Linked DNA regions of Homo sapiens: regions 1 and 2 are each linked to region 3. Evidence: fine-mapped expression QTL. A gene starts in region 3. Each other region holds a variant in brackets. All regions are shown on one strand. Distances are from middle to middle. Region 1 overlaps TMEM8B (transmembrane protein 8B). Region 2 has its middle 3.0 kb from the start of OR13J1. Region 3 holds the start of TMEM8B (transmembrane protein 8B).

Region 1 (4,235 bases), 26 kb before region 3:
GCAGCTGCAAGTGCTCAGGGGTCTCAGTCCAGTCGTATGTACAGATACATGCAAGGGTACAGCAATATCTGCCAGCCACAGCCCTGTATTCAAGGCAAGGAAGGGCTGTTTGAATCTTGGGATCTCCCCCACTGAGACAAGTCAGGAGACAACCAAGGATTCCCATTTTGGGAGCCTGGAGACAGGCCTGGTTCAGCGGCTACGTCCAGCACTGTCATATTGCTGGCCCCCTTCCCTCCGGGAATCCCACATGCACCTCAAACTGTCCAAAGTGGAGCTCATCTTCCCCCCACCCAAAGTGGTGTCACCATCTCAGGGAATGGCACCACCATCCCCAAATCAGAATATCACCATCATCCTAGGCTCTCTCATACCTCACCACCCCACACACCCAATCAGTCACCAAGTCCTAAAGAGTTCACTCCTAACAGCTCTTAAATTGGTCCCCTCCTTTCCACCGATATTGCTTTAAGAAGGCTTCACCATTTCTCTTTCAAATGTTCCAATAGCTGTGGTCACTGCACTTTGTCCTCCAAGGTCTCCCAAAGTCCATCCTCTGCCCCAGCCATCAAAACCCCAATCTGATGTTCCTCTCCTGCTTAATCTCTCCAATGGCTCCTCATTTCCCATAGAATAAAGACCCAACCTCCACTTATCTATCTAATCATATCATTGGCTGCTTACCTCCACCACCCCACTCCACACACAAAAGCATGCGCACATGCACTGGCCCAGGCACACTGAACTATTCAGTGCCCGGAGTAAATATCAGTCTTTCCTGCCTCTGCATTCCCCCTTGCTGTTCCCTCTCCATGTCCAAACACGTGGTGACCTTAAGCTAACATATATTGGACCACATCACATACCAGACTAGGCACTATACAAGTGTTCTAAGAGCTTTACTGACTGAAGACCACAGGGAGTGATGAAAATCTCAGGGAAGGGATGCCATGTGGACACTGGTGACCACAAAGAACACTCTCCCATTATCTTAGCATCATGGCAACTCAGCTAATCCTAGTTCAAATGTCCCTCTTCCCAGACGCCCCTCATGACCCCTCCTCACTGGGAGGGATGCACCCCAGCTCCGTCTCCCACTTCAGAGCCTTCTGTACTCTGCTGACTCTGTCCAGAATCCCAGCTATTTGGGTTCAAGCATCCCAGTGACCTGGCTCTATACGTCTTAATGTGGTATTTCTGATGTAGGAACAGTATTTTCTAAAATGGGAACAGACACCTAGCTCACACCTCCTCACTGCTTCTCACTACTCACTTGGCCACACCATTCTCTGCTCAGTGCCCCATGGAAGAGACGTGATTGCAGAAAGCAGATAACAAAGGCATGTTTTCCTGGCTTTTGGGTTTCAAAAGCCTAGGTCCTGAAGGGAACAGAAAAGGCTTAAGGCATAGATAAAAGATTCAGGAGAGGCCAGGCGCGGTGGCTCACAACTGTAATCCCAGCACTTTGGGAGGCCGAGGCGGGTGGATCACCTGAGGCCGGGAGTTTGAGAGCAGCCTGACCAACATGGAGAAACCCCATCTCTACTAAAAATACAAAAATTAGCTGGGCTTGGTGGTGCACACCTCTAATCCCAGCTACTCGGGAGGCTGAGACAGGAGAATCACTTGAACCCGGGAGGCAGAGGTTGCAGTGAGCTGAGATCGCACCATTGCATTCCAGCCTGGGCAACAAGAGCAAAACTCCGTCTCAAAAAAAAAAAGATTCAGGAGAAAACATTAAGTAAGGCTTCCTCACCTCCAATATTAACGAAAGGGGGAAAGAAGAGAGAGGAGGAGAGGATGTAGTGAGAATACTGACACAGAGGGTCCCAAAAGGAAGAGTCCCTGAGCTCCACACCCCAGGCCAAGATAGATTTGCAGTTTTAACAGATGCAGCAA[C/A]TCATGCCTTGTCTGTCAAAACCCAGAGCAGAAACAGCTTCAAGGTGTGTCTGCATAGCCAAGGCCTTAGACAACTTTACGGGTCTCCACATATGGCCCAGAAGTGGCAGAGAGAACCTTAGGACTGAGAGAGTAATGCAAATGGGAACAAGAAATCTCTCTGCATCCCAGATGAACTGTCTGGACCTCTGACTGGGGACCAGATGGAATGATGGAAATCCCGGGGATGGATGAAGTATGGACACTGGTGATCAGTGAGAATGCTCTCCCAACTTCTTGGCATTATGTAAGACCCTCAGAACTCAGCTATGACCCTCATGGAAAGAGAAGGAATCCCAAATGGACAAATGATCTTTTCTGGCACTCAGGAAAAATGGGGGCTCAAAACAGAAGTTACATTCTTGTGATATTTCTTGCACACCTGAGACGTGTACCTGCTATTCCAATTTCCTGGGACCTCGGCTTCCTTCTGTGTTGGGTGTGGGCATCATAAGGAAAGTCTGTCTCACTGATTTAAATCATCTCAGCATACGTATACATACATAAACACACACACACACACACACACCCCTCAGATACTGCAAATCGGGCTCAATAGGAATTGGGGAATAGGCATTAGAAACTGTTTAGAAATGAATGCAGGGCCCAGATGAGCGGGATCAGACTGTGTACAGGGTGTGACAAAAGCCTCCGGCAGTAGCTCCCATCAGCCCTGCTGATTCCCTGAGGGGCCCTCTTTCCCCACTTCCCCACACCCCTGACCCCAGGGGGAAAAAAGGCATCACAGAACCATTCTGAACCAATCAATCACTGGAGACACACAGACTCCACCTGTATCAAACGAGGATACCAGCCACCCAGACAGCCCCAGTCCCAGCTCCATCCATCCTGCAATCCCTCCTCCACAGCACAGCACAGCCCAGACGCTGCCTCTGGGAAGGAAGCCTGAGGCCAGAGTTGCTGAGCCTCTGGGAAAATCTGGAAATTTGGTTTCCCCAAGATAGACTCCACCTCCTCTGGAAAGATGCTGTGCTCCTGACAGGGCTTTGTCTCCCTGGGAAGGAATCCATGTCTTGGGAAGGCTCTGCATCCCAGGAAAGGCTCCACACCTGCAGGAGGGACTCCTTGGTCCTGAGGGACTCTGTGCCTGCATAGGCTCCAGTCCTTAAGAAGGACTCCATGATGCAGGGGGACTCCAGGCCCTCAGGAAGTTCTCCATGTCCTGGGAAGGGCTCCAGGTCCCTGGAAGAGTTTTGTGTCCTTGAGAAAGACTCCATGTCCTCAAGAAATACAGCCTGTCTCCTTCTAAGAGGGCTCCACACCCCCAGAAAGAACTCTAGGAAGCATTCATATCCCCTCAGGGCCAGGCCCAAAGCCCCTCTCAGCTGGCACAGATGCTGCTGACAGTGGCCCCTCCTGGGCCCACGAGGCCCAGCTCCTCCTGCTCGTTGATGCATAGCTGGTAACCACAGCCCCGGGCCCGGGCTCCAGATGGGACCCCGTGGTCAGTCTTGGCACGAGGGGGCAGCAGGAAGCCCACACTGCCCGCAATGAGCATATGCCAAATGCTGTGAATGTAGAAGTAGTTGTCCCGGGTCTCCACAAAAGCATAAAGCAGGACGGCACTGCCTGCAATAAGGCTGCCAGGGCACAAGTAGAAAAGCCAGCGGCGCCACGTGGGTGGGTAGCAGTGCCGGCGGCGGACGCTGCGTACTGTCTGGGGGAGACAGAGAAGTGGGGCTCAGGAATGCCAAGCCCTGGAACCCAAGCCAGAGCTGGTCACTCTCAGGTTTCCTCTGTATCCTGGTTGTGACCTAAAGACACCTGCCAAGACTGGAGCGGACACTGCCAGCAGCAGGTGATGACGACAGAGCCAAGCCCACCTTAAACTGGGGACCAGATACCTGGGGCCCAGCACCCAAGTCCTGCTGGGACCCTCCCCCCACATCCCTCCCCACCCTTACCCAGGCTGTGGCCAAGATCCCCAGGGCGAAGAGACTGGGTCCAAGCAGGTTCCAGAGTCCATGTCGGTCAAGCTGCAGAGCCATGGACAGCAGCATAGCTCCCAGCAAATACAGCACCTAGAGAAAGAGACTCAAGGGCTGGGCTAGGGCCAGGTGACAGACAGCACTCCAGGGCCTGGGTCAGAATCATGAGAGGCACTTGGAAATGCCCCCAGGGAGAGGTCAGGAGTGGATTTCAAGGAGACTTGGCCATGGTTGTTCCCCAGGGCCCACTCTGGACTGACCTGCTTGACCACGGGCTGTAAACGAGCCATGGCAATGACAGTGACCCACACGGACATTAAGGAGCCCAGGAAATCACAGAACTGCAGC
Region 2 (4,239 bases), 44 kb before region 3:
GCTAGCAGACCCACTTTACAAGAAATACTAAAAGAAATCCTCTAGGCTGAAAGCAAGCAAATACAGACGGAAATTCAAATCCACATGATAGAACAAAGAGCACTGATAAAGGTAATTATATAATTATAAAAGGCAGTTTTAAGTGCATATTTCTTATTTCTTCTCCTATTTTTCAAAGAAATCATATAAAACAATATGTATATAATTATATTCTTGGAAAAAATGTATACTCTAAAAATTACAAAATATTGTTGAAAGAAATTAAAGAAGATCCGACTGGCTCATTGGCGCTGTCATGGCAGGTGTGCTGAAGAAGACCACTGGCCTCATGGGATTGGCTGTATGCAAGAGTCCACACAAGACAAGCAACTAAAATCAGTCTGCTAAAATGTAAGAGGCTAAGAATATTGTACACAAAGATCCTTGATGTTCTTAAGCAAACCCCTTAAAAAGCAGCACATAGAAAGTATACAGAACAGATTGCAGATGAGAAATTGGCTATGGTTAAAGCAGAACCAGATGTTAAAAAATTAGAAGACCAACTTCAAGGTGTTCAAATAAAAGAGGTGATTCTTCAGGCTGAAAATGAACTAAGTCTGGCAAGAAAAATGATACAGTGGAAATGATAGGAGATGTTCATGGAAGAGCCTCCTGCCAATCAATGGAAATGGCCAATGTAATTAATAAATGACTGGTGGGTTGATGGGAAAAATAATATAATTAAATATTCTGTTATATTAAGAGCATGCCCATATTATTGACATTTTATAATCAAGAAAAGTAATATAGAAAATGTTTAAGAGACTTAAAATTAGTGATTATGGTAGTACAGTATTGTGAATCAATTTTTGATTTGTAAAGTATTCACACAAATTATTACAAAGATGATATTTCTTAGAACAGAGAGGTCATGGAAAGACTTGAAAATTAATTTTAAAAAATCCTACAGATCTTCAATGCAGAGGCCATACTCCAAAAGTAAAGTTTCTTTAGTAGTATCTTCAATACATCATTAATTTTTTTATCATTCTGAAGAAGAAAAGGTCCTTAATTATTATTGTCTAAACAAATTTATAGATCACTGTTTAAAGTAAATATAGTAAGAGTGAATATTTTCAAATGTGATAAAATAGCACAAGTGGCTGGTAATAAAATTTGAAATTATAGTTAACCTCCTTGGCTGTGATCTTACGTATGTAAAGTAAAATGTAAATACATAATTAGGCCAGGTGCAGTGGCTCACACCTGTAATCCTAGCACTTTGGGAGGCCGAGGCAGTTGGATCATTTGAGATCAGAAGTTTGAGACCAGCCTAGCCAACATGGTGAAACCCCATCTCTACCAAAAATACACAAAAATTACCTGGGTATGATGGTGTGTGCTTGTGATCCCAGCTACTCGGGAGGCTGAGGTGGGAGGATCACTTGAGCCCAAAAGGCAGAAGTTGCAGTGAGCCCAGGTCACACTACTGCACCCCAGCCTGGGTATCAGAGCGAAACCCCATCTCAAAGAAAAAAAATTAAAATTAAAATAGGCTAAAGAGCCTATTTTTTTCTCCAAAGAAGATATACAAATACCCAATGAGCACTTGAAAATATGTTCAATGTCATTAGCCATTAGAGAAATGCAAATCAAAATCACAATTAGATACCACTTCACTCTTACTATGATGGTTATATATAAATATAAATTTTTTTTTTGAGACAGGGTCTCACTCTGTCACCCAGGCTGGAGTAGGGTGGTATGAACATGGCTCACAGCAGCCCTCAACCTTCTGGGCTCAAGCTATTCTCCTGCCTCAATCTCCCAAGTAGCGGAGACTACAGGCACATGCCACCATGCCCGGCTAATTTTTGTATTTTTTGTAGAGACGAGGTTTCACCATGTTGCCCGGGCTGGTCTCGAACTCCTGGTCTCAAGTGATCTGCCCACCTCGGCCTCCCAAAGTGCTGGGATTACAGGCGTGAGCCACCACACCCAACCAAGATGGCTATAATTTAAAAAGCAGATAATAACAATTGTTGGTGAGGATGTGGAGAAATTGAAACCCTCACATATTGGGGAAATGTAAAATGGGAAAGTAAAATGATACTTTCCATTTTGGAAACTGGCAGTTCCCCAAAAATATACACATAGAGTTTCTATATGACCTAGAAACTCCACTCCTAAGAAAATATCCAAGAAAAATGAAAATATACATCCACACAAAAACTTGTATGCAAATGTTCATAGCAGCACTATTCGTAACAGTCAAAAAGTGGAATCAACCCAAATGTCTATCAACTGATGAATGGGCACATAAAATGTGGTATATCCATACAACTGAATATTAATTAGCAATAAAAAGAAAGTAAGTCCTGATACATGCTACAATATAGATGAACCTTGAAAACATTAAGCTAAGTAAGAGAAACCAGTCACAAAGGGAAACATATTTTATAATTTCATTTATGTAAAATGTCCAGAATAGGCAGCTCAAAAGAGACAAAAAG[TAGA/A]TTAATGGTTTCCTAAGACTGGAGGAGGTTGAGGGGAAAAGGGGAGTGATGGCTAAAGGGTATGGGCTTCCTTTGGAAGTGATAAACATGTTCTAAAATCAACTGTGGTGATACTCAAAACTATTGCATTGTACACTTTAAATTCACCCGTTGTACACTTTAAACTCACCCATTTAAAGTGTACAATGCAATAGTTTTGTATTTGAATTGTACATTTTAAATGGGTGAATTTAAATGGGCGGCTGCATGGTGTTTGAATTATAGCTCAATAAAGATGCTATTTTTAAAAAGAACTAACCATTGATTCACACAACATGGATGACTCTCAAAATAATCACGCTGAGTGAAAGAAGCCAGATTTTAAAAAGAGTACATTCTGCATAATTCCCTTTATGTAAAATGCTAGAAAATGAAAGTAATCTACAGTTACAGAGAGCAAATCAGTGGCTGCCTGGTTGGGGAAGAAAGGAATGGATTACCAAGGGGCATGAGAAAAATTGTGGGTATATTAGATAAGTTCATTATCTTGATTGTGGTCATGGTTTCATGACTGTATACATTAAAACTAATCAAATTATATGATTTAAATATAGTTGTACATCAACCATCCTTCAATAAAGCTGCAACAAAAAAGCATACTAAAAAGTCACAAGACCTATTTCCATGTATAGATATACATATGCAAATGGCCAGAAAAGTATCTGGATAGATATACACAAAACTAATAACAATAGTTACTTTTGGAAAAGTGGGAGAGTGGGAAGGGTGGGTGAGGCTGGGTATGGAAGAGTGAGGGAAGGGTGAGGCTGGGTATGGGAGAGTGGGAAGGGTGGGTGAGGCTGGGTATGGGAGAGTGGGGGGAGGGTGAGTCTGGGTATGGGAGAGTGGGAAGGGTGGGTGAGGCTGGGTATGGAAGAGTCAGGGGAGGGGGAGGCTGGGTATGGGAGGGTGGGGGAGGACAAGGATGGGTATGGGAGAGTGGGAGGGGTGGGTGAGGCTGGGTACGGAAGAGTGGGGGGACGGTGAGGCTGGGTATGGAAGACTTGGGGGTCCTCTCTGCCTAGGAAGGGTTTGCACTCAGCAGCCTGGGAGCACACCTGTCATCAGTGCTCCCTCACATCTGGCACCACCTGACATGTAGCAGGTCCTCAGTTACTTCTAGGTTCTGGGATGAGTAAGTGAGGGTGGAATAAAAGACGGAAATGGTCTCCTGCAAGGAAGGCACTGAGAGGAACTGTGCTCCACCCAGGCCCAGGATTTGGCATCGTGTCCCATGGGATTAATGACACCGTGCCAGATACCCTGGAACACTAAGGAGAGGTGACTCATGCTCTTTTGCTGGTGAGAGGATTGTGGCAGCACCTGGGGCACTGATATCCATCTAGAATGGTAAAAGAACAAGCATTGTTTGAAACCTAATAGAAGCATACACCTGCTCTGAGCATGGTATAGGGGTCACACTGTTGGGAGGGCTGGATTCTAGCTTCACCTCACCAGAGACCTGTTGTGTGACCTCAGCATCCCCATCTATACAATGGGAGATCCAACAAGTTGGCCTCTGGTCATGTTCCATGCTAATACCCTAGGAGTTCATGAAGTCAAAGCAGCCCTCGCTCTGGCCCACAGAACATAGGGGTTTGGAGCTGGGCCAAAAGCTCCATCAGATTTTAGCTGGGAAACCCACAGGAAGGCAGATTGTGAAGGTCCAATCCACACAGGGTAGCTAATGAAACAGGCCCTGGGC
Region 3 (4,239 bases):
ACCAGGCCCCCAGAGCTCACTGATACCCATTCTCCACCCCCCAGCTGTTCTGTTGGCTGTTATTTCCAAAGACTCCATCAGGCACATCTCCATCCTATCTAGAGTGACACCCACCAGAGGTGGCTACAGACTTGGGCCATGAAGACTACAGTCACTCCATGATGGAGCCATCTTCATGGCACATCCCCTAGACCAGGACACCCCCTCCTCCTCCCACATTCCAACCATTAAAAAATTGGACCTCTCTCTCTTCTGTCCAAGTCACTTCCCCACCGGAGGGTGGCCCTTGGCTGACGCCTGGCAAATAAGGAACAGTTTGTGGATAAAGCACCCTTGTGGGCAGACCGGGGAGAAGGGAGGTTATGCTTTGAGCCTTTCCCCACTTGGGTCTATTTTTCTATTAAGTATACATTGCAGTGGATAAAAAAAAACACACTAGTATGAAATAGGAATTAGGAAACCTTTTTTCTAGCCCCAGCACACTGCCATTCACAAGCTCTCTGACTTTGGACAAATTGCTCCCTCCCTGAGCCTCAGTTTCCCCATCTGTAAAATAGCCTCCGAGTTTCAGCCCTGCTCTAAAAGTATCAGGAATTATTCCTAGGCAAATCAATCTTCTTTGGAACAAGAATCATTACAAGAAGAAAACTCATTATAATGGCAACTAATCCATATTCATCTATTTGCTACATATTATCTTTAAAACTCTTCTTCATGCCGTTTGAATGCATGCCCAATATCTCAAAGGTTTGGGCTATATATTCCCACACTACACTAGGGGCTTCTGGTGTGGGACTGTCTCTCCCCCATCAAACTTTGTGAGCAGGAGCAAAGCCCACAACATTTCCCTGGAAAAGCAAGAGTCAAAGTGGGGTCAGGACAGACACCAGAAAAAATCTTGGAGTCTCTGTGCTAGAAACTGTAAGCCACCTGCTGAGCCTCAAACCCAATTAATTACCACTCTTTTGACCCTGCCAATCCCTGTTGTGTAAGACCTCTCTACTCTCTATTTCTCCCACTTGCTCCCCAATGATCTAGTTCCCCAGGTCCCACCTCTCCTGAATCTCTCCAGCCCACCCCTCCCTGCCGGAACCCCATTCCTGCCTCAATCTTCCCTGCTTCTGCACTCACCAGCCCCTGGGCCAAGGACAGAGAACAGCAACAGCAGCAATAGGGCTGGCGGCAGCTGAAACCCAGACTTGAGTCTAGGCTGGGAGAGGGGCAGAGTATGAGAGATAGGGGGGACTAGAGGGAGAGACTTGGGTAAACACAGAGATGAGGGCAAAGGCTGAGATAATGGGTTGGGCTGGGCTGGACACTGGGGCTTGAACAAGGGCAGGGAGTGGGATGGAAGGAAGGGCTGTGATGGGGACTGCAGCAAGGGACGGGGTTGAGCCAGGGCCTTAAGCAAACACTGGGAATGGGGCTGGGACAGGGCCTGGGCTGGGATTTGTGACAGGGGGTGGAACGAGGGCCGAGGCCGGGATGGGGGCCAGGCCAGGGGCAGAGACTGGAAGGGGGTCCTGGATGGGGACCCAGGCAGGGGCTGGGGCCGATGTGGGAAGCGGGGCGAGGGCGGGGCTGGGGGCCAAGGCGGGGATTGGGATAGGACGAGGGGCCGGGACAAGGGCTGGGCCATGGCCCGGGGCGGGGGCGGGGCCGGACAGGCCAGCGCGGGGCGCTCGCAGAGCTGGCCCGCGGCTCCGCTCCCCACCCCCGGGGGGTGGCCTCCGGTGTCCTCGCGGGCCCGGGGCGGGGGCCGGGGACCTGGGTAGGAGTTCAGGCCTGGGCGACTCCGGGCTGCGCTGAACCGGCGATAACCAGGCCCCGCGGCGGCGGCCTCGACTTGACGTCGGCGTGACGCCCCGCCCCCCGGCCGGCTCGATTGGTCCCTGTCAGTAAAGCCCGCCCCCGCCCTACTCTATTGGTCCCCAACTTAGTCCTGCTGGGCTTCGAGGACACACAGACTCCGCCCCCGCCTCAGCTACCCGAGACCCTGCCTTTCTCACCCCAAGCACAGAGCCCGAGGTCCCCTCAGATCCTCACAGCCCCCAACGACCGCCCCACAGATGTCTCAAAGGAACCCTATCCTCACAATCCCAGACTCCCCCGGACGTACGCACAGATCTCCGCAGATCCTACCCAAACACTCGCTCACAGAGATCCCGCAACACACACCCCACTTTTCAGAAGTAAACCCTCTGGGCTCGCCCCCTCGAGGCCCAATGCAAGCCCCTCAGGAGACCTTACCCACCGGGGAGGTGACCAGACCGCCGTTGCCACGGAGACTACTAGGCGTTCCGGTTGCCCTGGTGACCGGCGCCTACTCTCCTGGCCCGGGTTCCGGAGGCTTCAGTCAAGACCCTCCCTCATTGGCCCTAGACCCCTTGTCCCTACCCACTTCCCCAGGTCATGCCAGAGCTCCTTTGCGAAGTTCTGCAGATATCCAAGTCCCCTTCCCAGATAGCAGACTTTCAGGCAAGGCATTTCAACACTCAGCACCTGCAGCTGAGGCACATCCACAACCAAGAGCCTTTCCTCCCTGAGGATCAACACCTCCCCCTGCCATCCTAAGTCAAGGTCTTGACCTAAGGACTTGTAACAACCAAGCCAAAGCCCAGAGGGTAGGTGGTTTCTCCAACGGCCCTTGCCCTCTTCCCTCAAAGACATCTGTCTTTCTCCCACCCCTCAGTCCCTTCACATTGTTGTAGTAGTAGTAGTAGTAGTAGTAGTAGTAGTAGTAGTAGTAGTAGTTGTTGTTGTTGTTGTTGTTGTTGTTGTTGTTGTTGTTGTTTGAGACAGAGTCTCGCTCTGTCCCCCAGGCTGGAGTGCAGTGGTGCGATCTGGGCTCACTGCAACCTCCGCCTCCCAGGTTCAAGTGATTTGCTTGCTTCAGCCTCCCCAGTAGCTGGGACTACAGGCGCCTGCCACCATGCCCAGCTAATTTTTGTATTTTTAGTAGAGACTGGGTTTCACCATGTTGGCCAGGCTGGTCTCGAACTCCTGACCTCAAGTGATCCACCCGCCTTGGCCTCCCAAATTCTGGGATTACTGGCATGAGCCACCATGCCTGGCCCACATTCTGTACTTTTCATCCTTACTCTCCTCCTCCACCCAATTTCCTCCTCCCCTTCTCTTTCCCCTTCCTCACCTCCCATCTTCTGGTTCTCCACTCTTAGGCCCCTTTTCTCTCTAGCTGACTCTGGTCATCTTCCTCCCTGTAATCCTACCTCTGCCCCTAATTCCCTTCCCAAACATCCCCTTCAAAAAGGCTCTGATGCATTTAAGGAGTGATATATCTAGCGTCTCTGGAACATGGGGGTAAAGTAGGGAGCACGGAAAGTTAAGGCAGGAATCCTCAGGCTGTGTTGAAAATGATGACAGGCCTTGAATGCCAGGGCCAAGAAATTTGGACTTAATCCTTTAGACTGAGTCATGGAATGTTTTTAAGCCACAAAGTGCCAGTTGTTGGGCTTGCACTTTAGAAAGATCCTGATTGGGTCAGGAAGGAGGACTACATCCTTGCAGGATAAATTAGGTATATCCCCCTCCCCACCGTATCCTAGACTCACCCCAGAACAACATCAATTTATTTGTATTGCCATTGTTGGTTAATCGGTCTCTCTCCTAGACTCAACTCAATCTAGAGCTTAGCACAGCGGGTCAGTAAAAGCATCAGATTAGGCTCATTGTAAAAGTATAAGTTACATAAATCCATGAAAGAATGGGTGAATGGATTAAAATGCTGTGGATGGAAGTAGAGGGGCAAAGTTATTACACAAAGGCTGAAGATGATGAGAACTTGAATAAAATTGGAAGGGAGAGGAGAGAATGCATTTGGGGAATATTTAGAAGATAGGAAATAGAGTTATTGGTGCCTATTTGAAGATGGAGTCTAAGGGAAAAGGAAAAGACTAGGATAATTCCCAAAGTTCAGTTTTGCTGTCTGTGGAAACACTCAGTTAGAAATGACCAGCAGGGGCCAAGCACGGTGGCTCACTCCTGTAATCTCAGCACTTTGGGAGGCCAAGCAGGGCAGATCACCTGAGGTCAGGAGTTCAAGACCAGCCTGACCAACATGGTGAAACCCCGTCTCTACTAAAAATATAAAACTTAGCCGGGCATGGTGGCACACGCCTGTAATTCCAGCTACTTGGGAGGCTGAGGCAGGAGAATCACTTGAACCCGGGAGGCGGAGGTTGCAGTGAACCGAGATTGCGCCACTGCACTCCAGTCTGG

What was found. PIP is the estimated chance that this variant, and not a neighbour inherited with it, causes the effect. A credible set is the group of variants that fine-mapping cannot tell apart.
Region 1: its variant is the best candidate, but not a certain one, in a credible set for the expression of TMEM8B in nasal epithelium (TOPMed, PIP 0.62).
Region 2: its variant is the best candidate, but not a certain one, in a credible set for the expression of TMEM8B in monocytes (TOPMed, PIP 0.80).

The regions. Positions count from the first base shown.
Region 1 is chr9:35,852,886-35,857,120 of GRCh38, reverse strand. It overlaps TMEM8B (transmembrane protein 8B), which reads right to left. Exons shown (of 13, transcript NM_001042590.4): 11 at 4,148-4,235; 12 at 3,864-3,980; 13 at 1-3,616. The coding sequence ends at 3,281. Among named protein-coding and RNA genes, the nearest start is that of OR13J1, 15 kb to the left of the region's middle. The variant C/A (reference allele first, on the strand shown) is at 1,900.
Region 2 is chr9:35,871,251-35,875,489 of GRCh38, reverse strand. It overlaps the pseudogene NDUFA5P4. Among named protein-coding and RNA genes, the nearest start is that of OR13J1, 3.0 kb to the right of the region's middle. The variant TAGA/A (reference allele first, on the strand shown) is at 2,493.
Region 3 is chr9:35,826,848-35,831,086 of GRCh38, reverse strand. It overlaps TMEM8B (transmembrane protein 8B), which reads right to left and starts at 1,859. Exons shown (of 13, transcript NM_001042590.4): 1 at 1,132-1,859. The coding sequence starts at 1,639. FAM221B (family with sequence similarity 221 member B) reads left to right here and starts at 2,355. Exons shown (of 7, transcript NM_001012446.4): 1 at 2,355-2,624. RefSeq lists an enhancer at 767-1,267 and a silencer at 1,553-2,002.